2 separate regions of the Homo sapiens genome follow, and region 1 is linked to region 2. Evidence: fine-mapped expression QTL. Tissue or cell type: whole blood. Region 2 holds a variant in brackets; the other region holds the start of a gene. All regions are shown on one strand. Distances are between the middles of the regions. Region 1 holds the start of FCHSD1 (FCH and double SH3 domains 1). Region 2 holds the start of ARAP3 (ArfGAP with RhoGAP domain, ankyrin repeat and PH domain 3).

Region 1 (9,222 bases), 32 kb after region 2:
TTCACCCCCCTGCCCTTTCTGACTGCCCCATCACTGTTCTTTGTCTCCCAGGTGGGGCTTCACATTGATACTAGAGAAGATGCACCTGTGAGTACCTCCTGCCCTGGCTTCTCCTCTGGCCCACCTCTGCACCCTGTCTTTTCTCTTCCCTCTTTGTATGCTCCATTCCTATAGCTGTGACCCTCTCTCTCCCTCTGATTCCATTCTGATCACCCCAGCTACTTGTCCTGCACTGACGAGGATGAAATGTGGGATTGGACCACCAGCATCCTTAAAGCCCAGGTGAGGGGAAAGAAAAGGCTGAGGGCTGGGTCTGTGGTCCCCCTGGGGCCCAGCTGTCCTCCTCAGTGCCTTTCATGCCCACTGATGCCAACCCCTCACGCTCCCACCAGCACGATGACCAGCAGCCAGTGGTCTTACGACGCCATTCCTCCTCTGACCTTGCCCGTCAGAAGTTTGGCACTATGCCTTTGCTGCCTATCCGTGGGGATGACAGTGGAGCCACCCTCCTCTCTGCCAATCAGACCCTGGTAAGGCACCCCACCCTGCCCCAACCCGATTCCTGTCGTGTAGCCCTTGTCACATTGCAGTAGGCAGTGGTGTGCCTGCTAGCCTGGTGCCACCCTATGCTCACTGTCCCCCTCCCTTCTGCCTTCTTCACCCCCATTCCCCACCCCTGTCTCCTGTTGCTAGTCCTCACTGTGTCTTTATGTCTTTCCTTCCCCTTGTCCCCACCCCACCTGTGTCCAGCGGCGACTACACAACCGGAGGACCCTGTCCATGTTCTTTGTGAGTATTGTGCCTGCTCCAGCGGTGTGCCTGTCAACCCTGTATTCCTCTGTGCTGCCTGAGCCCCGGGTGTGCTGTTTTCCTCATGTAGGCCATCAGGGGGTGTGTGTGTGTGTGTGTGTGTGTGTGTGTGTGTAGGCCATCAGGGTGTGTGTGTGTGTGTGTGTGTGTGTGTGTGTAGGCCATCAGGGTGTGTGTGTGTGTGAGAGAGAGAGAGGGAGAGCGAGGAAAAGGGAGAGGGAGAGGGACAGGACAGAGAGAGAGAGGAGGCCAGAAAGAATGAGGAAAATGAGGGATGTAAGATGCAGTAATAAAAGGAGAAAGGTCGGGCACAGTGGCTCATGCCTGTAATCCCAGCACTTTGGGAGGCTGAGGTGGGTGGATCCCCTGAGGTCAGGAGTTCAAGACCAGTCTAATCGACATGGTGAAATCCCGTCTCTACTAAAAATACAAAATTAGCTAGGTGTGGTGGTGCATGCCTGTGATCCCAGCTACTTGGGAGGCTGAGGCAGGAGAATCACTTGAACCTGGGAGGCGGAGGTTGCAGTGAGCCAAGATCGCACCACTGCACTCCAGCCTAGGCAACAAGAGTAAAACTCTGTCTCAAAAAAAAAAAAAAAGGAAAAAGTTGTCACAGAATCTGTGAAATAGAAGGAAAGTGATGAAGTGAATGCATTTTGGAGTTAGACAGACCTGGGTTCAAACCCCAGCTCTACCATTCACTCATTATGTGATGCTGGGCAACTTACTTAACCCCTTTGCATTCAGTTGACTCAGTGTAACCCACTGCACAGGGTTGTTCCAGAATCATACATGCCAAGTATTTTACAGCATCTGGCCCAGAGGAAGAGCTCAGTAAATGTTAGTGATTCATAATCTGGTAACTTTAACTATGTGCCCACTCCTGCCATTCCATTCCCATCCAGCCAATGAAGTCATCCCAGGGGTCTGTGGAGGAGCAAGAGGAGCTGGAGGAGCCTGTGTACGAGGAGCCAGTGTATGAGGAAGTAGGGGCCTTCCCTGAGTTGATCCAGGACACTTCTACCTCCTTCTCCACCACACGGGAGTGGACAGTGAAGCCAGAGAACCCCCTCACCAGCCAGAAGTCATTGGATCAACCCTTTCTCTCCAAGTCAAGCACCCTTGGCCAGGAGGAGAGGCCACCTGAGCCCCCTCCAGGCCCCCCTTCAAAGAGCAGTCCCCAGGCACGGGGGTCCCTAGAGGAACAGCTGCTCCAGGAGCTCAGCAGCCTCATCCTGAGGAAAGGAGAGACCACTGCAGGCCTGGGAAGTCCTTCCCAGCCATCCAGCCCCCAATCCCCCAGCCCCACTGGCCTTCCAACACAGACACCTGGCTTCCCCACCCAACCCCCATGCACTTCCAGTCCACCCTCCAGCCAGCCCCTCACATGACCCTAGGACCAGCAGTCTGAGAGGGTAGGTACCAGAAGACCCAGAAACTCTTATCGTGGCACTGTTGCAGCTTCCTCTGCCCTGGCTGGAAAGACTCCAGAATCCAGTGTGGTGCTGTGGAAGGAGCACTGGACTAAAGGCTTCAGTGGCTGCGTGTCCCAGGACAGGTCATGGCCCCTCTCTGGGCCCAGCCCATTTATCTATACCATGAGGTAACTGAAGTAAGGAGAGCAGTGAATGTCAAACTGTGTTTCTTAGAGCCATAAGCCCCACATATTATCCCTGAACAAGGGCAGCTCCTGCTTTATATATTTGATACGTAGGGGTTCCATGAGAGATTTTGGGTTTTAAAGGAATGGTTTTACTGCATTAAAGAAAAAAAATGCTTTGGAAACCAGAGGCCTGGGTGATGTTAAAGTCTATCCTGTCCCACTTCCTACATTCTGGGACTACCGTGAAGCCTGGAGTAGGGAGAGCGAGTTTGGGAGCTGGGACTCGGGGAGTCAAAAATAGATGAGTAATTGTCAATAAACCTGGGAACCAAAAGACTACCATTCTCATTCATTCATTCAACAAATATGTATTGTGCACCTAATTGGTGCCAGGTCTGGGGATATAGCATGAACAAAACAAACAGGGCCCCTGCTCTTATGAATCCTCCGTTGTGGAGGGGAACAGAAAATAGCAAATAAACACATAAACCAGTACTTGAACAAGTGAGTTTAGTGCTGTGAAGAAACTGAACCAAAGTGATGAGCTTGAAGAGTGATTGTGGAGGCCAGGCGCAGTGGCTCACACCTGTAATCCCAGCACTTTGGGAGGCTGAGGGGGATGGATTACCTGAGGTCAGGAGTTTGAGACCATCCTGGCAAAGATGGTGAAACCCTGTCTCTACTAAAAATACAAAATTAGCTGGTTGTGGTGGCACGTGCTTGTAATCCCAGCTACTCGGGAGGCTGAAGCAGAAGAATCACTTGAACCTGGTAGGTGGAGGTTGCAGTGAGCCGAGATTGCACCATTGCACTCCAGCCTGGCAACAGAGCAAGACTCCATCTCAAAAAAAAAAGAGTGATTGTGGAGATGGTCTTTGGATGGGTGGATGGGGAAGGCATCTGTGAAGAGTTGCAAAGTAAGGGAAAGAAGCTGTTGGAGGCGACAGATGGAACGCTGGAAGGAGGAGATTCTGGAGAAAGAAAGCAGGCATGAAGAACTCTGCATTGGAAGGGACTTGGTCTACTGAGGGAACAGCAAAGAGGCTGGAGCACAGTGAGCAGACAGTGGGAGGAGAGTACAGGCTGAAGTAAGAAAGACCAGCAGGGTCTTCCATGCGTAGCCTTGAAGGCCATGGATTCTATTTGGATTTTATTCTGAAGCAAGTGCATTTTAAGCAAGTAAATTATGAGATCTTATTTCCCTTTAAAAAAGAAAAAAAAGGTTGATCACTCTGAGTGCTGTGTGAACAGTGGGTTGGGGTGAGGGCAGTGTGGAAGCAAGGAGATCAGATATTAGACCAGAAGTCTAATAATGGGGGCTTGGACTAGGATGGTGGTCTTGGAAATTGAGGGAAGTGGATCAAGAGGTTTTTGTTTGTTTATTGTTGTTTGAAATAGAACCTGTAGGACTTACTGATGGATAGAATGTAGGGGTAGGAGAAGGCACATTGACTCTGGGTTTCTGACTTAACTGACTGGAGGAAATGCGGTGCCATTTAAAACGTTACGGGGGGAGGATCAGGTTGAAGGAGGTTTAAAAGCTTTAAAAGTTGAGGTTCCTATTAGATATACTAGCAGAGGTGTCAGTGGGGAGTTGGAATGTGAATCTGGAGTTTTGAGACATGTCAGGGGTACTGGGACAGGTGCCTGAGCCAAAGAAGCTTAGGTGAGGAGGATGAGGAATTGGGGAGAGGCTCCTCAGGAAGCAGTGCTAGGGCTGGAAGATCCTAAAGGTGGCAGGGGCTTCCTGCGCATCTCCCAGCTCTCGCCGACTCACTGGTATCGTTTAGTTTTCAGTGGGGCCAAGTCTTTTTCCCTTTGGGCCTGGTTCCTTCCTGGATCCAGGCATCTTTCTCACCCCGCTCACGCTGGCTTTTCCAGTTAAGCGGGAATTAGGAAAAGGTCTGGGACCAGCCCTCTCTTCGTCAGATGCATCTTTGCTCAGGTGCCCAGTGACTCAGTTTCCCTGGTCACACACTGAATTCCTCTCCATTCCTCATCATTAGCTCGGGGACTGGGGATCTACATATGCAAATGAATAATTATCAATAATTACAGGCTGAATCAGTGGTTACACTACAAATAGAACTTAGGCGTCTTGACTCAGATGCCTGGGGTTCTTCCCACCGCCCAGCGGACGCTGCGTCCGCCCCGCCCGCCCCGCCACCCGGACCCTGCCGGCGTATTCGCAGCAGTAACAGGTTTAGTTTCTCGGTGGCCCCCTCTCGCTTCCGCGCCCTGCGACGTCGCCGGACAAGTCGTGGGCGGGCAGAGGGCGGGGCCTGACCTGGCCTGGGGCGGGGCTCCATAGTGGGCGGGGCTTCCTCCAGTTCCGGAGTCCAGTGGCTGACCGCCTTGCTGGAGCGGAGATGCAGCCGCCGCCCCGAAAAGTGAGCTTGGCCCTGAATGGGGACTCCTGGCGGGCTGGGGGAACGGAGGGAGCTAAGGGGGCATCCGACTTGTGGTAGGAGACGGGAAGTCGGAAGGGGTCAGACCCCAAACCAGAAGTAACAGAGGAAAGAGCTCAGCACCCCCCCGGCCCCGCCCCCTCACCGCTCCCTGCGCGGAGTGTTTTTTAGGTCCTTGCGCTGGGGTCTTCATCCTCTCTTTGCCCCCACAGGTGAAGCCGGCCCAGGAGGTGAAGCTTCGCTTCCTGGAACAGCTGAGCATCCTTCAGACCTGGCAGCAGAGGGAGGCGGATCTGCTGGAGGACATCAGGTAGCTCCCCCAACCCCCTTCATTTACACTCACCTTCGTCGTTGTGCGCCACTTCTCCCCAATATACATGTGCTGGGGTGGAGGAACAGGGGCCAAGAGCTCCCCAGCCGACCCATCCACAGCCCTCACCCTAGGCCTGGCCTCTCCAGATACTGGATAGGAATGCTCCCCCACCTAACCCCTCCCAACCCCCTCCCACCCACATAAACACACAGGAACCCTCCCTCAAAGCCCTTGACTCCACACCACTGCCCCCAACCCCACAATCAACCTTAGGGCAGAATCCCTCTCCCTCTTCCAGACCTGTTGGAAGGCTGGCAGACATCGTACCCAGGCCCCCATCAGTCTTCACCTCTAAGCCTACAGATGAACCTCTGGGGTGGGGAGGATCCTGCTGGGGCCCGGGGCAGTAAGGTGAGGGTTTCCTGTGTTGCAGCTGCCCGAGGTGATCTCAAGGACTCCCATCAGTCCCATTCCCTCTGGGTGTAGTTACACTCTAGGAACCTGGCTCCCCCCAACCGCTCCCTCCTGCCCAGAGTAGAGGACTGAGGATGGGAGAACAGGACCAAACATAACCTTATCCCCCACCTCACCCCCGACCTGCAATCTCCGCAGATCCTACAGCAAGCAGAGGGCAGCCATTGAACGGGAGTATGGGCAGGTATGGGACTTTTCTCTGGACCTTACCTCTTGTTCCAGCCTCTCTTATATCACCAGTAATGTCTGTCCATACCTATCCCTATTGTGGTCAAGAGCAGATGCCTAGAGTCAAGCAGACTGGTGTCAGATCCCTGCTGTGTAATTATAGCCATGTGACCTTGGACAAGTTACTTAACCTTTCTTGACCTCAGTTTCTTTCTCTGTGAAATGGGAATAATAATAATACCTTACCTTCATGTAGGGTTGTTGTAAGGATTAAACAAATTAATGACTATAAGGCATTTAGCAAAGCAAGTGGCACATAATGTACCCAAAGAATGGTATGATTATACTCTGATGTCATATTCTGCCAGTTGGGGTGGGTCTTTGAAAGGGAACTTGGTTCTGTGATGGCTTTTTCACCAGGCACTCCAGAAACTGGCTGGCCCATTCCTGAAGAGGGAAGGGCACCGGAGCGGTGAGATGGACAGCAGGTGGGCCCTATGGAGGGGGAGGGCCACAGAGGCCAAAAAGTGATGGGGAGCTCAGCCCCAGGAACCTGTGGGGATGAAGGCCTAGCAAGTGGGGAAGGCACGTGAGCTGTAGGTAGAGCTGACACAGCAGCAGCAGAGGAGCTGACCCAGCAAGGACACTGTGGGTGGGGTGGAGGGCAGGAGTGAGGCTTGTGGCTGAGCTAATGGGCTGATCGATTGATGGGCTCCCAGACAAGGGAGGATGGGAAAGCACTCTGTCTCCCATGGTGTTGGTCAGGGGGCAGGGGGTGGGGGTGGTCTCATGAAGCTGTGGAGTGCTCTCCTCCTCAACACAGACCTTCTCTGGGGAGGGGCAGGACAGTGTTCGGTGCCTGGCGCTGCCTGCTGGATGCCACCGTGGCTGGGGGCCAAACCCGACTCCAGGCGTCTGACCGATACCGTGACCTAGCAGGGGGTACAGGGCGGAGCGCCAAGGAGCAGGTGCTTAGGAAGGTATGGCTCAGAGGTTGGGGTGAAGGAAGAGCTGGCTTGGGACCAAAGGTGGTCTAGGTAAGGACTTTGTGTATGCATCCCAATAGGGAACAGAGAACCTCCAGAGGGCGCAGGCTGAGGTGCTGCAGTCTGTCCGGGAGCTGAGCCGAAGTCGGAAGCTGTATGGGCAGCGGGAACGTGTGTGGGCCTTGGCACAGGAGAAGGCGGCTGATGTCCAGGCCAGGTGGGGTCATGGAGAGTGAGGAAGCCCAAGGTTGGGGAACAGGGAGGTGGGGCTGTCTAGGGGTGGAGCCAAGTCACCAAAGCTGGGCCTGACTCTGATCTCATATTCTCCCACTTGGGGTGGGCCTGACTCCTTTCTCTCATCTGCACAGGCTAAACCGAAGTGACCATGGGATCTTCCACTCTCGGACCAGTCTCCAGAAACTGAGCACCAAGGTTCGAGGGATGAGGGCATGAGTGGGGGCAGGGAAGAGGGAGGCAGAGTAGTCTAGTGGTTTGGAACATAGGTGCATATGTATGAAAGACTGGGTTGAATCCAGGCTCTCCTACTTCCTGGGTGGGTAACCTTGGTTAATTTACTTGATCTCTGTGAGCCTTATTTTCTTCTATAAAATGGAGAGAATACCCTTCTTTTTCAGTCCTTTAATATGCATTTATTGAGGATCTGTATATAATAGGCACTGTTCTAGACATTATGGATACAGTGGAGAACACTACCAATGGAGTTCCTGCCCTCACAGTCTGGTTAAGAGAGACAGACAGCAAATAAATACTTAGATTAAGATGAAAATAAAACAAGGTACTATGATAAAGAATAACAAGGGGGTAGAATTTAGAGGGAGGCCTCTCTGAATAGGTGGCCTAACTGTCAAGAAGGAGCTGGCCTTGCAAAGATCTAGGGGAAGAACATTGCAGAGAGAAGAAATGGTGAGTGCAAAGGGTCTGAGGTGGGAATAACTTTGTAGGCTCGAGGAACTGAGAGAGGGCCAGTATGGCTGGAGTACTGTGAGCAAGGGAACAAGCGCTTGAAAAGAGGTCAGAGAGATTGCGGGGGCCAGCTCATATTGAACGTGGTGGACCATGGTAAGGAACAGTGGATTTTATTTTAAATGCGTGCAGAAGGCACTAGAAGATTTTGAGCAGGAGTTGTGTGTATGCAACATTTTTAGTGTAGTGCCAGGCACATAGTAAGCACTCAATAATGTGAGAATCCATTCTGGATCTGGCTTCTCAATTGGTCTTGGAAGGACTCTGGGGGTCTAGGGCTTCCTATTGACATCAGTTTACCCTCCTAGCTGTCCGCCCAGTCAGCCCAGTACTCCCAGCAGCTGCAAGCAGCCCGCAATGAGTACCTGCTTAACTTGGTGGCTACCAATGCCCACCTCGACCATTACTACCAGGAGGAACTGCCAGCTCTGCTCAAGGCCAGTTTTAACCCAGACACCCCTATCCCTCAGCAGGGAGGGAAAGGAGGACCTCCCCCTGCTTCTTGATCCCCATGACAGTGGGTGGTGCAGGGGATCTTGTCTGTTTAGAGTGAGTAGATGATACATACATGCACTCTGGTTCTGCTCCTAGCTGGCTGCATGGCATTGTACAGTACACTTAAACTCTTCCGAACCCCAGATTCCTCATCAGGGATAACCCTTTCTCTGCCTATCTTATAGCACTAGTGGGGCTCAAAGGAGAGAATGGATGTGAACGTGTTTTAAACTTCTAAGTGCTCTGCACACGAGGGCCTTTCTCATGAAGAATGTCTTCTTCTCTCCTTCCTATACCTCATGCCCATCACCTGTCAAATCTGGAACGAGCCTATTTTACAGTAGAGGTCTGGGGGAAGGGTGGTGTCAGTATCTTGGGGTTCTCTCTAGGCCCTGGTCAGTGAGCTGTCAGAGCACTTGAGGGACCCCCTGACCTCCCTGAGCCACACTGAGCTGGAAGCCGCAGAGGTCATCCTGGAGCATGCCCACCGCGGGGAGCAGACAACCTCCCAGGTGAGGGCTGTGGCCTCTAAGAGCTTCCCCGGGGATCCTTTTTACCCTTCCCTCCCAATGCAGCCCTCTTTGCTTCACACATTGTCCTTTTTCTTCCAAGAAGTGCTAGGGACAGGGTTGGAGAGTGAGTCAGTGAATGAGTGACTTTGACTTTTCCCAACCCCTAGGTAAGCTGGGAGCAAGACCTGAAGCTGTTTCTTCAGGAGCCTGGTGTATTTTCCCCCACCCCACCTCAGCAGTTTCAGCCAGCAGGGACTGATCAGGTGAGATCTTCCTGCTTGTTGGAACCAGGCCACATATAAAGGCGATTATGATTTAGGCCTCCTCCATTATCTTTGTTTTGTGTTAACTTAGTGAGTGTACACCGTGGAGAGGGGGTTTCAGAACTCCAGCTCACCTCCCTCCCAACAGGACACACACAAAAAAACACACCTCAGTCCACCTTTCAGTCACTTGACTGCGCCATCCT
Region 2 (15,493 bases):
TGTAGAACCTTCTCAAATTCCCTGTGGTCAAATGCTAGATGAGGAAGGGACTCAGCCCTGGTTCACAGATGGTCAGTGTGATATGTTGGTGAGAGTTAGAAATGGATTGCTGCCACATTATGGCCGTCTTGGCGTAGCCCTAAAGGACAGTGGGGAAGGGAGGTTCCAGGGTGCAAAGCTTTGAGCAGTACACTTGGGCGTTAGCTTTCTCTAAACGAACAAATAGCCTGAGTTGTGGATATTCCCTGGCTCCTGTGGAATAGTGAATGTCCCCTAGTCAGGAACCCGAAGGAACAAAAGCCAAAGGCAAGTGACAAAGTGGTCTAGGAAAGAGGTAGATGGGTGGACTGAGAGTGAGCACCAAGTGTGCAAATTCCCTGGCTCCTGTGGAATAGTGAATGTCCCCTAGTCAGGAGCCCAAAGGAACAAAAGCCAAAGGCAAGTGACAAAGTGGTCTAGGAAAGAGGTAGATGGGTGGACTGAGAGTGAGCACCAAGTGTGCAAACCTCTGGGTCTCAGGTAAACAACCAGCAGAGCATCTTTTGCCAGGACACGCTCCACAGAGATACAATGATTCGCCTGGTGAGTGAATCTCTCTCCCTGTCTACCCTGAATGCCTGCTCAAAAGCCCTTGAACAGAGTAGTCATGCTACCAGAGATGGAGGCTATGTATGAGCCCAACAGCATGGGCTCCCTCTCACCAAGGATGAGCTAGTTCTACCACTTTGATCACTCAACCTGCCTGCAGCCAAGACCAGTGCTGGGCCCTCCCTCAGAAGGCTCTCTTCCTCAGAAGACCAGCCAAGCCTCTGGCTGCAGATCAGTTACACTGACCCTATTCTTTCTACTCTGGAGGGGACAGTAATTCGTTCTTACTGGCAACAGTGCATGCTCCAGATTCAGGCTTGTCTTCCACAGTGTTTTTACCAAAAAAGTACAATAATGTGGTCATCAAGGACTTCTATAGTTTCTGCTCTTACATTTAGGTCTTTGATCCATTTTTGAGTTCATCTTTGTATATGGTGTATGGGATGCCGATCAACAGAGTCATTGGGCTCGCTTGGTTGCTCCTCATCACCTAGAAGCTGCCAGCCTGATGGGACAAGGGGACAGCCTGTTGAATGCTCAGTGAAGACACTGGCAGGAACATGACACCTGTGGGTTGGGGCCCTCAACTCCTTGATGCGGTATTTGTTTTGACCAGTACTATGTTCCTTATACATAGAAATTGCCAGTCCTGGAGTCAAATGTGGAAGTGGACGTGGCCCATCTCATTCACATTTGTAGAATATTTGCTTTCTGTCCCCAAAACTGGTGGCTCTGCCAATTCGAGTTTCTAGTTGCCAGGAAGGGAGAACTTATATGAAAGAACACAGTAGTTTCCACTAAACTGGAAGCTGTGACAGCCACGTGGCCACCTTATGCTCCTCATTCTAGTGGGCTAATAGACAAAGAAGGGCATTAATGTGCTGGCCAGGGCCATTGATCCTGATGGCCATGAGGAACCAGGGCTGTAGATACAATGTGCATAGATGCAATGAAGGCGGGGAGTCTGGCCCCAGCCAGGGGATTCGCTGTGGCATCTCTTGGAACTTCCCACCCGGTAGTAATTGCCAATGGACAACTTCAACAACAATTCTAAAAGGACAGGGCAACAAAGGCATCAGATCTCTTGGGGATGAACGTCTGTATAATCTCATCAGGCAAGTAGCCCAGATCTGCAGAGGGCTAGCGGAGGGTCACGGAAGGAGGGAGAGAATATCAATTATGGACTCAAGACACGCTACAGCAGTGGGACTGTAGCTTGCTTCATTAGCCCTCTCCTCTTTATCTTCCTTAAGACCACATCTGGCATTTTCTGGAAGGGGACTTGATTCCAGTGGACTGTACTTTCCCTCATGAGGAAAGAGTGAGGGCAACTTTGTCCCTGTGGGGGAAAATGCCCTGTAGGGTGGCATAGAAGTCAGGTATAATGGGAGGACTTGAGTGGATCTCAGTGGCATGAGAAATGGGCTGCCCTGAGACATGAACCTTTCTTCTCAAATTCCTTCACTACCTCCTCCTCTACTTTCAGACTTAGATAAAATGCCACACTGTACAGTGTGGAACCTGGTTTCCAAGTGCCACCAAGGGCTGGGTAACAGAACCCAGAAGCATGGGAAGGTGACTCTGTGGGGTGAACCTTGACCCATGGGAGACAGGTCATGGGTGGGAGCTGAGGACTGCTCCAAGGTGGATTTCCTCCTTACCTTCTGGAGAAGTCCCACCCACGTGCCGAGAGAGAGCACCCCTGCTGAGTAGCCAGCAGTGTCTCTGAGGGGCTTGTGTGAAGCAGGGCAGGACAGGAAGGCACCGCACTGTCTCACCTTGCATCCTCCATTTCCTCTCCCTCAGCTCAGGGCTTCCACCTGAATCCTGACCACAGGCTCTGCTTCTCAAAGACCTAAGACAAAGGGATTCCTGAAAGCTGTTTCCCCGTCTGTGTCCCACACTGTGGTCACCACTGGAGCCTGAGTTTAACCAGTCCAGCATCTCTGCTGAAGCCAAAGAAATGGAGACCCCGGGGGACAGGAACCAAGCAACTACTTTCCAGATGGGAGAGAAAGTATAGATGGACATCTGAGCAATGAGGGAGGGGCAGGCATGGTCAAGAAATCGAGTGGGGAGATCAGAGGGTAGGAAGTTAAGTCCCAGTGAAAACTGCCCCCTGTAAATGGGTCTGTGCAGTGAGTTTTCTGGGAGAGAGTGATTAGATCCTAGAAGTGAGAAGGGAGAAAAATATTATCTTTCTCCCAAGGAGTAGACAACTGCATCCATGCAAGGCAGGGAGTGCATTCTCCTGACACCTTCAGGGCTCCATATTCCTGGGTGGGGGCAGTGTCTGACCCACAGATGCTCTGGACAGTGAAAACATCAAGAGTGAGTAAACGGTTGGCTGGGCACGGTGGCTCACACCTGTAATCCCAGCACTTTGGCGGAGGTCACGAGTTCGAGGCCAGCCTGGCCAACATGGTGAAACCCCGTCCTTACTAAAAACACAAAATTAGCAAAACATGGTGGCACATGCCTATAATCCCAACTACTTGGGAGGCTGAGGCAGGAAAATCACTTGAACCTGGGAAGCGGAGGTTGCAATGAACTCAGATAGTGCCACTGCACTCCGGCCTGGACGACAGAGTGAGACTGTCTCAAAAAGTAAATAAATAAAAAATAAATAAATAAATAACCCAGTATCCGGTATTTTGTTACAGCAATGCAAATGGACTAAGATAGCCCCCCCCCCCACCCCCTCTGGTCACTCCCAAAGCCCCAGTTCATAAATACTGCATGCCCAGGGCACAACCCCATATCTGGAGTACAGCCTCACACTCCGATGGAGTTTTGTGTCCAAAAAAGGACTGGCCCAGCAGCAATTTGGTGGTTTGCAGGGAGGTAGGGCAGAGACTGAGCATGTCCAAATATCCCTAATACTCTCCTTGCACCTACCCCTGCTTTCACTCTTCTGTCTTTCTTTAGATGTGTGCAGTGGTGCACCAGAAGCTTTAAACAAAGGTCTGCTAATTCCTGGAGTCATCCTTGTCATTCTCCTGCCTCTAGGCAAAGCCCTATTTCAGCATTTTCAAGGCAGCAGGAAGGGAAGAGGAGATGAGGGACCTGAGCCCCAGCAGTCTACAGTCTGCTTTGCCTGGGATGCATAAATAGGATTGGAAGGGCCCTCGTCTTTGAGAGTTGGGTGCAGGGTGTTTTTCTAGGGAGAGATCCATAACTGTCACCAGAGTCTCAAAAAAGTTTAAGATTTGCCTGTGCTGTCCAATATTGGCAGCCAGTGGTTGTTTAAATTTAAATTAATTACAATTAAATTAAATTAAATATTCAGCTCTTCTGGCTCACCAACCTCATTTCAACCTCTCAATGGCCACATGTGGCTACCGGCTGCCATACTGGACAGCACAAATAGAGAACACGGTCCATCATTGCAGGAAATTCTATCAAACAGCACTGCCATTAATTTTATGTATAGAGAAACTGAGACCCAAAGAGAGATGACTTGCCCCAAGCCCTAAGGGGAGTTAGTACTAGCTGTAGTACTAGATACCCTTTATAAAACATTTTGCAGTAAAATTGCATTAAAAATCTTGTAAATACAGCTCATGTCAATAGCCTAGGGTGGAAGGAGACAGGGCCCAGTCATGGGAATGAGGATGCAGGGGAAGGGAGGTGTTCTGTGTTTGTTCCTTCCCTCCCCCTGACCCCAGGGCTGCCCCAGTTCTCCAGGATAAAGAAGGCGTAGAGGCCTGGAACTCCCTCCTCTCCTCAATGATGACTTCATCCTCACAAAAATGTGAGGAGGGAAGTGGGAAGGGGCTCCCTGGAGGGTAGCTCTGGAGTCTAGGGGGAAATGGCACAGCCCTCAGGCCAGAGGAATTAGGGGTAGGGAGGGCTGTGCTGACCCTAACCAGTCTCCATGCAGCCATCTTCCTAAAATTCAAACCTAAATTCATGAGTCTATTGCCCCATGCTTAAACTCTTCCCTGGCTCCCCATGGCTCCTGGCATGGAGACCAAATCTCATACAAGCCCTCCAAGGGCCTGCATGGCCTGGCCCCTGAGATCCTTTCAGTCTCAGCTGGTCCCAAACTCCCTGTCTCTTTGATCTGTCTCCCTTCCTCACCAGGCTGACTCCTACCTCAGGGCCTTTGCACTCGTGGTTCTTCTGCCTAGAACACTCCCTCCCATCCCGCTTAACTCCTACCCATCTTTCTGAGATCTCAACTTAAGCAGAGCTCCCTGCAGAAGCCTCCCAGACCCCCAGGCCAGGTCAGCTGCCTCTGTTATATGCTCTTACAGTGCTTCCCTTCAGAAAATTCATCTTGGTTTGTAATTACACATTTATTTGGGGGTTGTTTGATAAATGTCTCACTTCTTGAGCAGGTCATGTTCCCTAAAGTCTGCTGAGCACGTCATTGCATCTCTAAACCCTTGAGCAGTGGTTGGTCCAGAAAAGATGATTAATAAAAACATGAGAAATAAATGAAAGGATTGAATGGGAGTCTTCCTTCCTGTAAGAAACATGCTCGGCCGGGCGCAGTGGCTCACGCCTGTAATCCCAGCACTTTGGGAGGCCAAGGCAGGCGGATCACCTGAGGTCAGGAGTTCAAGACCAGCCCCGCCAACATGGTGAAACTGCGTCTCTACTAAAAAAAACCACAAAAATTAGCCGGATGTGGTGGTGGGCGCCTGTAATCCCAGCTACTAGGGAGGCTGAGGCAGGAGAATCGCTTGAATCTGGGAGGCGGAGTCTACAGTCATACGAGATCGCACCACTCCACTCCAACCTGGGCGACAGAGGGAGACTCTGTCTCAAAAAAATAAATAAATAAAAAGAAACTTGCACCTTGGCATCCCCCTAGGCCCTGTCCCATCTCATCAGGACCAAATGTGGGTGATGGCTGTGCCTTTTACCATCCAGAGGGTAAGGGCAGGAAAGGAGTGTGACCTGGAGGCCACTGGAGACCATGGAGGCGATCAGGAGTTGCAGGGGTGACAGGAAATTGAGTTACAAAAGTGATGGAACAGACAAGATGACAACTGGGGACCCTGGGGAAAATACAAGGGGTACAATGTGGTCTAATTTGGCAATAGGATGCCACAGGCTGATTGATTAAAATAGGTAACGGGATATGCCAGAGTGATGAAGAAACAGGCAAGCTGGGTGCATACCAGAGTTATCATGGAAGTAACTGGCAAAAATAGGAACAAGGAACAGGAAACACTTTGAGCACTCATTGAATGTCAGGTCCTTTCCACATATTACCCATATATTTCCATAGATTAATCTTTACAACCCTGTCAGGCACTATTCTCTCTCCTTTTTTCAGAAAAGGAAACTGAGGCACACAGGGCAAAATAGAGATGAATAATCTGCTCAGGTCACAGCTGGTAGAGGTGGCATCAGGGCTTTATTTTAGAGACTGTTTTTTTGTTGACCTTTTGTTTTAGTTTTTGTTGTTGTTGGTGGTGGTGTTTTGTTTTGTTTTTAGAGACAGGCCTCACTGTCACCCAAGCTGGAGTGCAGTGGTACGATCTCGGCTCACTGCAATCTCCACCTCCTGGCTCAAGCAATCCTCCCACCTCCACCTCCTGAGTAGCTGGGACTACAGGTGCACACTACCACACTTGGCTAATTTTAAAATTTTTAGTAGAGACGAGGTCTTGCTATGTTGCCCAGGCTGGCCTCAAACTCCTGCTCTCAAACAATCCTCCTGCCTTGGCCTCCCAAAATGCTGGGATTACAGGTGTGAGCCACAGTGCCTAGCCGAGAGACCTTGTTCTTAATTACTGCATACCATCCACTTTTGGTGAACAAAGTGGCCTCCAAAGTGATTGTGGCTTAATAGTCTATCATTTGAGTGGGGAACAAATCGAGACATGGAAGGGGCTATTGAAGAATTCCCTTCCACATCTCCTCATTGCTTCATTCTTCCTCTTCCTCTGCTCACTAGTGTCCCTTTTGTCCTATGTGTTAAGATTAAGATTTAAGATTTACTAATTTCGGCCGGGCATGGTGGCTCACGCCTGTAATCCCAGCACTTTGGGAGGCTGAGGTGGATGGATCACCTGACAGGAGTTTGAGACCAGCCTGGCCAACATGGTGAAACCCTGTCTCTACTAAAATACAAAAATTAGCTGGGTGTAGTGGCAGGCACCTGTAATCCCAGCTACTCGGGAGGCTGAGGCACAAGGCTGAGGCACGAGAATTGCTTGAACTCAGGAAGACACAAGCCAGGGGCCAGAAGCCTCCACCTGCCCCATATCATTGAGCCAAAGAAGGGAAGTGGGGTCTGAGGGAGGAAGCCAGGTCTCCCTCTCTGTGGCTCTGCCCCATCATCTGGCATTGGTGTCCTTAACTTGGAGTCAGTGGACTTGGATGGGAAAAGAATATTACTTTCACTAATCTCTAGCTGAAATTTAACATTTCCTCCAATTATGACAATAGCAACAAACCAGTCATTTTAGCCATAACTATGGCTTTGTCACCAGTAGAAATCACATATATTTTTATATCATATTACAATATTGCAGATCTTTTGAAATACCATTTATGCTCATCACTGCATCAAAGTTATGTGAGGTATCAACCTACCACTAGATCTTATTTAAAGCATTAATAAAGAAGCACATATATTACTATATCACATCGGTTTTATATGTGTATTACAACATAATTGGTTTCCTTTGCAATCCTATATATTTTATTTTATGCATTTTAAAATATTATTCTGAGATGAGACCACATACTTTACCGTATTGCCAAAGGAGAACATGGCACAAAAAGGTTCAGAACTCTTGCATCTAGCCCCTGACCCAAACTCCCCGGCATCCATTCCTCAAAACTCCCTGTGCCCTTTACTGTCTTTTCCTGCTCCCTTATTTTGCTGGGTTAGTCTGAGTCCTTAAAGAAGAAGCTGCCAAGGCAGAATGCAAGGATTTGACTAGGGGAGATGCCTGTGAGAGAGGAAGGGAGCCTGGAGCTAGGAGAGCTGTGAAGGAGAGAGGGAAGGAATAAAGGTTGAGAGGAGCATCCTAAAACACCAGTCAAAGGAAAGTTCAGCAAAGCCATTGGGAAATCTTGATCCAAAGTCAGCTGTCAAAGGAGTCCCCTATCTCCCAGGAATGGGTCTGCCTTAGATCTCTGCTGAGCTCTGTCACTGGCTGGGAGCAGCCCAGTGGGAAGCTGGCCTTAGATTTCAGAGAGAAGCAGCTGGGGCCATTGGTTAATTTCACTCCTCACAGTGTAAGATCTGTGAGGAGCATTCTCACTGCCACCACAGTTGCCCATCTGAAAAAAAGGACATGGTGCAGGGGTCCTGTCCAGGGTGGTAGGTGAGCATGGTAGTTATAGATATAGACTTGGAGGGTTGGCTATTTTCTAGCTGCAGAGTCTTGAGCAAGTTATTTAATGCTCCCTGTCTCCTTATATGTAAAATAGAGGTGATAAAATTTCCTATTTGTAGGGATATTTGTGAGGATTAAAGTTTGCAAAGCAATGTTTACATAGATCCTGGAGCACGGTCAGCTCTCAATAATTGGTAGCCCTTATTATGGCTATTGCAATTATTATTTTATTACTATAATTCTCTTTCTCAAAGGGAAGGCCGGGAAAGTGGGGCTCCAGTAGGTTGAAGATGACAGTCCCTCCCCTAGCTGAGGCAGCTGGAAGAGGTGGGAACCACTTCCTCCCACTCCCCTCTTCTTCCCCTGAGGCAGGGGTCTTCCCCTAGCTACTGACAGTTCCTGTGTCTGCTGACTCACAGCCAACTTCCTCTCATACAAACAGGAAAACACAGCCGGCCAGCGCCCCCGCCACCCCCAACACATACACACACACACACACACACACACACACACACACACACACACACACACACACAAACACCCCCCCCCCACACCCAAACACTGGTCCTGCTCAGAGAGGGAAGTGCCTCCGCCCCTGGGAGACAGGCTCCAGGACCGGGGTTCCGGCAAGATTAGCGAAGGAGAGAAGGGCCATTCCTCTTCAGGCCTCCCCGGCATCCCCCCTGAAATTTTAGGGTGGGAGTTGGGGAGAAGGGGCGGCTTCTCCCATGAATGAAACAGCTGCTTGCTTGGTCACTGAGCTTGCAGGGCGTCCGCCTGTCCCAAAAAGGCAGCCCCAAACCTTGGTTTGGAAGTAGGGATGTGCCTTGCGGACCTTCATCCCTCGAAGGAACCTAGGCCGGGCCCTTGGGGATGGAAGTGGGGAGAAACAGACGGGTACCCCTCTGCTGGGCCTCTGCGCTTGTTGCCCAGGCCAAGTCTCAATTCTGGATGTCCAGCTTCCGTCCCCACACTAAACTGGTTGCCAGGGTCCAGCCACCCTTCCGGGCGTGGGAGAGGTGCCCTGGGGGATTAGGGCTCGACCTTTCCTCCTCCCTTTTGGCAGGACTGGAGGGCATGGGAGCAGCGGAGAGGATGCAAAGCCGTCCCTGGCACTCTCCCTTTCTCAGTTTCTACCTCCGTCCCAGTCTCCGTCCCGGTCTCTGCCTCTTTGTCCCTCTCCCTGAGGTTGTCTTCGTCCCAACGTGTTCTGGTCCTTTCTCGGCCTGCGAGAGGGCAGACTGGGGGCAGACTCGGAGATAAGCGCGGCGGTTGGGCAAGAAGCCCAAACCCTTTGGAGGCCTGCGCTTGCACAAGGAGTGGCCGGGGCCCCGCGGAGGGAACCGGCCGGGCGGGGCGGGGCTGGGCCCGTCGAGGGAGGGCAGAGGGGAGGCGGGGCCGGCGCGGCGGGACCCAGAACCTCGGACGAGCGGCGGGCACCCGCGAGCGGACGGCGGCCGCGTAGTGAGGTGAGGACCCCCGCGCCCCCCGGGTCCCTGCTTCCCAGACTCCTCCCCATCACCTTCTCGAGGGCCTTCGTGGGCTCCCAGGCCCCCTCGGCGCCGGCGGCCCTCCCCATCCCTGCCACGACCCGCCCCTCCCTCCTGCTGCCCGGCCTCTGCCCCATCCCTCCTCGCCCCCTCCCTCGTCGCAGCCTGCGCTGCCCGCCACTGCCCGCCCCGCCCCCGCCACTCCTGTCCCGCGAGCACCTCAGCTCCCAGCCCCGTGCTGTCGAGCCCGGCCTGAGTCACCGGGAAACCGGGCCCTGAGTCAGGGCCCGAGGCTCAGCACGCGGGCCCTGGCTTGGGAATGAGGCCCAGCTGGAGAGAGGCAGAGGGAGGCCAGCAGTGATGCTGGGACGGAGAGGGCGTCCTGGTCACCGACAGAGCACAAGAGTAACAGGGAGAGAGCCTAGGCCGAGGCGGAAGACAGAAACCCAGGCTCAGAGGCAGACAGAGACACAGATACAACTCAAGATCTGGTTAGAATTGTAGACTGAGTCAAGGACAAGCTTAATAACAGAGAGCAAAACAGGGTGGGACAAGGAGAGGGACAAAGAAGAATTGAGAGGTTGAGATGGAATGGGGCAGGGACAGTGACAAGGCAGAGATAAAACTCAGGGGCCACAGAATTAGAGACAGGTCTATGAAATAGACCAGGGTCAGGGTCGGGGTCAGGCTGGTGGAAGGGGGACAGAGCACAGAGACCTGAGCCCAAGGGAATGAGCAGGGAAAAGGCAAGCTCAGAAAAGGAAGGCTTGGAGAAAGCAGAGGTGGGGGGATGGCATTTCACACTGCCAAATCGCTACAGGGCATGTGCACACACAGGTGAACAGCATGTGAACATGCTGCCGGTGGGCAGAGAGTCCAGAAGCCTCTGGAGTACCCCTGACCAGAGGTCAGGCCTCATCTCTCTGGCATCCCCATCCTTATTCTTCAATTAGCCTCCACCCAGGGCCGGGACCCCACACATTAGGACTGGTTAGGGCTCTCCCGGCAGCCTGACCAAAGCAGGCAGGATGTGGAGGCGGCCAGGGCTGGAGGGACAGGAAGGAAGTCTGAGCAGAGACAATAGGTGGAAGGGGAGGAGGGACTGGGAACAACCAGGATTAGGACGGCAGGCCTGCATACATCGGCTCTGGAAACAAGAGGGAGGGGGCGTCTGCACCTCCTTCCTCCTATCTAGGCTGCCCCTCTCCCTACCTTACTCCAGAGCTGATTGGCCACATCATTGGCCCCTCCTCTGCATCTCCCTATCCCACTCTGACCCACAGCATTCTAGCATCTTGTCCCATGCTTACTCAGTTGGATGTGCAGTCAGGCAGGAGCAGAGCTTTGACCCAGACCCAGGGTGGGCAGGAACTGAGGGGCCAACTCTAGCACTGACTTACTGTGAACCTGGGGCAAGCCCCTTCCCCTCTCTGGGCCTCAGTTTCCTTAACTTCAAATGAAGTCCCTTCCCTAAGTAGAGAGCCATTGCTGTTGTTCTGGGATGGCTCTGCTTCCAGATCGCAGGCCTTTCAGCATCTTTCTTTGGAGGAAGATTGGAGGCTGGTGCTCACTGTCCAGGCCTCAGACTCTGGGGCAGAGAGGGGGATTCTCAGCCTGAGCCCTCCCTTCACCCTGCCCCTCCCCCCAGCAATGGCCTGAGCCCCCATGGCTGCCCCTCAGGACCTGGACATCGCTGTGTGGCTGGCCACGGTGCACCTGGAGCAGTATGCAGACACGTTCCGACGGCATGGCCTGGCTACAGCAGGTGCAGCCCGGGGCCTGGGCCACGAGGAGTTGAAGCAGTTGGGCATCAGCGCCACAGGGCACCGGAAACGCATTCTACGCCTGCTACAGACAGGCACCGAAGAGGGCTCCCTGGATCCCAAATCAGATAGTGCCATGGAACCATCCCCCAGCCCAGCCCCGCAAGCCCAGCCCCCTAAGCCCGTGCCGAAGCCCAGGACCGTGTTTGGTGGACTCAGTGGCCCTGCCACCACTCAGAGACCTGGGCTGAGCCCAGCCCTCGGGGGACCAGGAGTGTCCAGGAGCCCAGAGCCCAGCCCAAGGCCTCCTCCTCTCCCCACTTCCTCCTCTGAGCAGTCTTCAGCCCTAAATACTGTGGAGATGATGCCTAATTCCATCTACTTCGGCCTGGACTCAAGAGGCAGGGCACAGGCAGCTCAGGACAAGTGAGTGGAGTTGGCTCCCTAGGGACTGATGCTGGGAGGAGTGGGGAGGAGAGCATGAGGGGGACGGAGGCGGGGAGCAGGGCATGAAGGCTTGTTCTTCCTCCTCTCTCCTTAAGTAACCAATAGACCTTTCCCTTCAGGGCCCCAGACAGCTCCCAAATCTCTGCCCCCACCCCTGCCCTCAGGCCCACAACAGGCACAGGTAACTGGGTTATCACGGGTTGGGGGAGAGGGATAGTGCCGGCAGGACCTCATACACTCCCAGCGATCTCCTCTTCCTTGTGCGTTCCCCTCTCCTCCTGCCAGTGCACATCATGGATCCTGGTTGCCTGTACTATGGTGTCCAACCTGTGGGGACTCCAGGAGCCCCC[G/C]ACAGAAGAGAGAGCAGAGGTGTTTGTCAGGGCAGGGCTGAACACAGGTGAGTACTAAATAGGGAAGTGGTGGGAGGGAGGAGCAGGTGAGTCGGTGGCGGCCATGTATCCAGTTATTCAACAAATGTGCATTGAGTATTCACCAGCCAGGCACTCAAGATACAGGATGAGTATCACAGACCTAGTGCCACCCTCAGGCAGCTTGTGACTCAGTGGGACAGACAGGGAATAAAACAAGTAGACAAACCAATGGTCATATAATGGAAAATTGGGAGAAGTGCTTTTCTTTCTTTCTTTCTTTTTGAGACGGAGTCTTGCCTTGTTGCCCAGATTGGAGTGCAGTGGCACAATCTCGGCTCACTGCAACCTCCCCCTCCTGGGTTCAAGCGATTCTCCTGTCTCAGGCTCCCGAGTAGCTGGGATTACAGGTGCGTGCCACCATGCCCGGCTAATTTTTATATTTTTAGTAGAGATGGGGTTTCGCCATGTTGGCCAGGCTGGTCTCGAACTCCTGACCTCAGGTGATCCTACCTCCTTGGCCTCCCAAAGTGCTGGGATTACAGGCATGAGCCACTGTGCCCAACCAGGAGAAGTGCTTTTCATTTTTTCATTCAACAAATATTTATTGAGCAACTATCATGCACCGGATGTAGATGCTTGGGATAGATCAGCGTACACAGAAATCCCTGCCCTTGTGGGGAGATAGTCTATTAACAATAAACATAATACATTAAATACTATAGAACGTTAAAAGGTATTAAGTGCCATGGAAAAAATAGAGCAGAGTAAGAGGGCTGGGGGGTTGGCCGGGCATGGTGGCTCACACCTGTAATCCCAGCACTTTGGGAGGCTGAGGCAGACGGATCACCTGAGGTCAGGAGTTTGAGACCAGCCTGGCCAACAGGATGAAACTCCGTCTCTACTAAAAATACAAAAATTAGCCAGGTGCGGTGGTGGACGCCTATAATCCCAGCTAGTTAGGAGGCTGAGGAAGGAGAATTGCTTGAACCGGAGAGGTGGAGGTAGCAGTGACTAAGAAAAAAAAAAAGAGGGCTTGGGGGCAAAATGGGTGGACTGCAATTTTTCATTTACAGTTAGCGGAGCGTTAAGAAGATGACATTTGATCAAAAACTTGAAGGAGGTGAAGGAGTTAGCCATGAAGATAACTGGGGAAGAGTGCCCCGGTAGGGCAAGTGATTGGAACAGAGGCCTCAAGGCGGGTGTGTGCCCAAAGGGATCCAGGAGCAGTGAGGAGGCCAGGCCATCTTGGCTGGGGCAGGTGAGCCACGGTGGGAGGAATGGCAGGAGATGAAGTCAGAGAGGTAAAAGAGGCCAGATAAGGGTCAGGCACAGTGGCTCATGCCTGTAATCCCAGCACTTTGGGAGGCCAAGGTTGGCGGACCACCTGAGTTCAGGAGTTTGAGAGCAGCCTAGTCAACATGGTGAAACCTCGTGTCTACTAAAAATACAAAAAAAATATAGCCGGGCGTGGTGGTGGGCGCCTGTAGTCCCAGCTACTCAGGAGGCTGAGGCAGAGAATGGCGTGAACCCGGGAGGCGGAGCTTGCAGTGAGCAAAGGTTGTGCCGCTGCACTCCAGCCTGGGCAACAAAGCAGGACTCCGTCTCAAAAAAAAAAAAAAATAGCTGGGGGTGGTGGCGCACACCTGTAGTCCCAGCTACTAGGGAGGCTGAGGCAGGAGAATCACTTGAACCCGGGAGGCGGAGGTTGCAGCAAGTCAAGATCATGCCACTGCCCTCCATCCTGGACAACCGAGTGAGACCCTGTCTCAAAACAAAAACAAAAACAAAAAAAACAAAAACAAAAAACAAAACAAAACCAAAAAAACAAAAACAAGGGGCCAGATAAGGGACTTTGGCTTTTACTCTAAGTGAAATGGGAAGCCATTGAGGGGTTTTGACTTTATAAAGGGATCCCCCTGGTTGCTATGTTGGGAGTGGTCTGTAGGGGGCCAAAGGAGAAGCAGAGAGACCAGTGGGGAGGTTTTTGTAGTAATGTAGGTGAGAGACCTCAGAGTGTAGTGATAGTAGTGGAGATGATGAGAAGTGGCTTTATTTTGAAGGCAAACTGTCAGATTAACTTGGGATGTGAGAAAAAAAGAGCAGTCAAGAATGACTTTGAGGGCTTCCATCTGAGCTGGTGCTGACCAGTATGGTAGCCATTAGCCACATGTGACTACTGGGCCTATGAAATGCGGCTAGTATCCTTTGAGATGCACAATAAATGTAAAACACCTGCTAGATTTCAAAGACTTAATATGAGAAAAAGCAATACTGGATGAATATAACAAATATAAACATAAATTATCTTATGTTTATATTTTTATGTTGATTACAGAATTTTTATGTAGTAAAAAATAGTAATTTTTATGTTGATTACATACTAAAATGTTAATGTTTAGGATATATTGGGTTAAATAAAATATATTATTAAAATTAATTTCACCTGTTTCTTTTAATTTTTTTAAACGTGGCTACTGAAAAGTTTAAAATTACATACTTGGTTCGCATTAACTTCTGCTGGATAGCACTGTCCTGAGCACCTGAAAGTTCCTGGAGCCGCCACGGTCTGAGATGGGGAAGACTGTGTTCAGGCAGCTGGGAGGAGAGGGTAGATTAGGAGTGCAGTTCTGGATGTGTTGAATTTGAGGTGTAAGTTATGCCTCCAAGAAGAGGTGAAAATAGACCACTGGGTAGACGAGCTTAGAGTCTAGAGAGAGGTCGGAGCTGGAGACCTAAACTTGAGAGTTGTCAGCACTTAGATGGGTGCATAGAGCTGTGAGTGAGTGCAGATAGAGAAGAGGACCAAGATCAAAGCCCTTGTGCACTCCCATATCTAGAGGTTTGGGAGAAGCGGAAGAATCTGCAAAACGGACAGAAGAGAAATAGCAAAGTAGAAGGCCAGGAGAATGTGATGTCATAGGAGCAAAGTGAGGAAAATGTAGAAGAAGAAGGGAGAGGCCAGCTGTGTCCTACGCTGCTGAGGGGTCTGCTGCTGAGTATGATAGGACTTAGAATTCACCCTTGGAATTGGAGGTCACTGGGGATCTTGACAAGTACAGTCTCAGAGTGATGGGGTGAAAGCTCGATGAGAGTGGGTTTTAAGGGAGAATAGAAAAGTACAGACAGTGTCTTTTGAGGAATTTTTCTGCAAAGAAGAGCAGAGAGTTGGAACTATTGTTGCTAGAGGAAGCTGAGTCAAGAAAAGAGTTTTTTTGTTGTTTTTGAGACGGAGTCTTGCTCTGTCACCCAAGCTGGAGTGCAGTGGTGTGATCTCGGCTCATTGCAACCTCTGCCTCCTGGGTTCAAGTGATTCTCCTGCCTCAGCCTCCCAAGTAGCTGGGACCACAGGTGCGCTTCACCACACCCAGCTAATTTTTGTACTTTTAGTAGAGACGGGGTTTCACCATGTTGGCCAGGATGGTCTCGACCTCTTGACCTCGTGATCCGCCTGCCAAAGTGCTGGGATTACAGGCGTGAGCCACCGTACCTGTCCAACAAGAGTTTTTTATTGGATGCAATGTTATATA

Evidence for each region.
Region 1: it holds the start of FCHSD1, and the variant in region 2 is fine-mapped to the expression of FCHSD1 in whole blood (INTERVAL, PIP above 0.99).

What each region holds. Positions count from the first base shown.
Region 1 is chr5:141,646,929-141,656,150 of GRCh38, reverse strand. It overlaps FCHSD1 (FCH and double SH3 domains 1), which reads left to right and starts at 4,733. Exons shown (of 20, transcript NM_033449.3): 1 at 4,733-4,803; 2 at 5,034-5,131; 3 at 5,747-5,792; 4 at 6,197-6,264; 5 at 6,615-6,756; 6 at 6,843-6,979; 7 at 7,131-7,194; 8 at 8,055-8,183; 9 at 8,631-8,753; 10 at 8,921-9,016. The coding sequence starts at 4,783. It overlaps ARAP3 (ArfGAP with RhoGAP domain, ankyrin repeat and PH domain 3), which reads left to right. Exons shown (of 33, transcript NM_022481.6): 29 at 52-87; 30 at 219-282; 31 at 393-530; 32 at 751-789; 33 at 1,716-2,749. The coding sequence ends at 2,201. RefSeq lists an enhancer at 6,133-6,711.
Region 2 is chr5:141,676,044-141,691,536 of GRCh38, reverse strand. ARAP3 (ArfGAP with RhoGAP domain, ankyrin repeat and PH domain 3) reads left to right here and starts at 9,307. Exons shown (of 33, transcript NM_022481.6): 1 at 9,307-9,364; 2 at 11,034-11,574; 3 at 11,715-11,776; 4 at 11,881-11,992. The coding sequence starts at 11,051. RefSeq lists a silencer at 9,258-9,307. The variant G/C (reference allele first, on the strand shown) is at 11,946.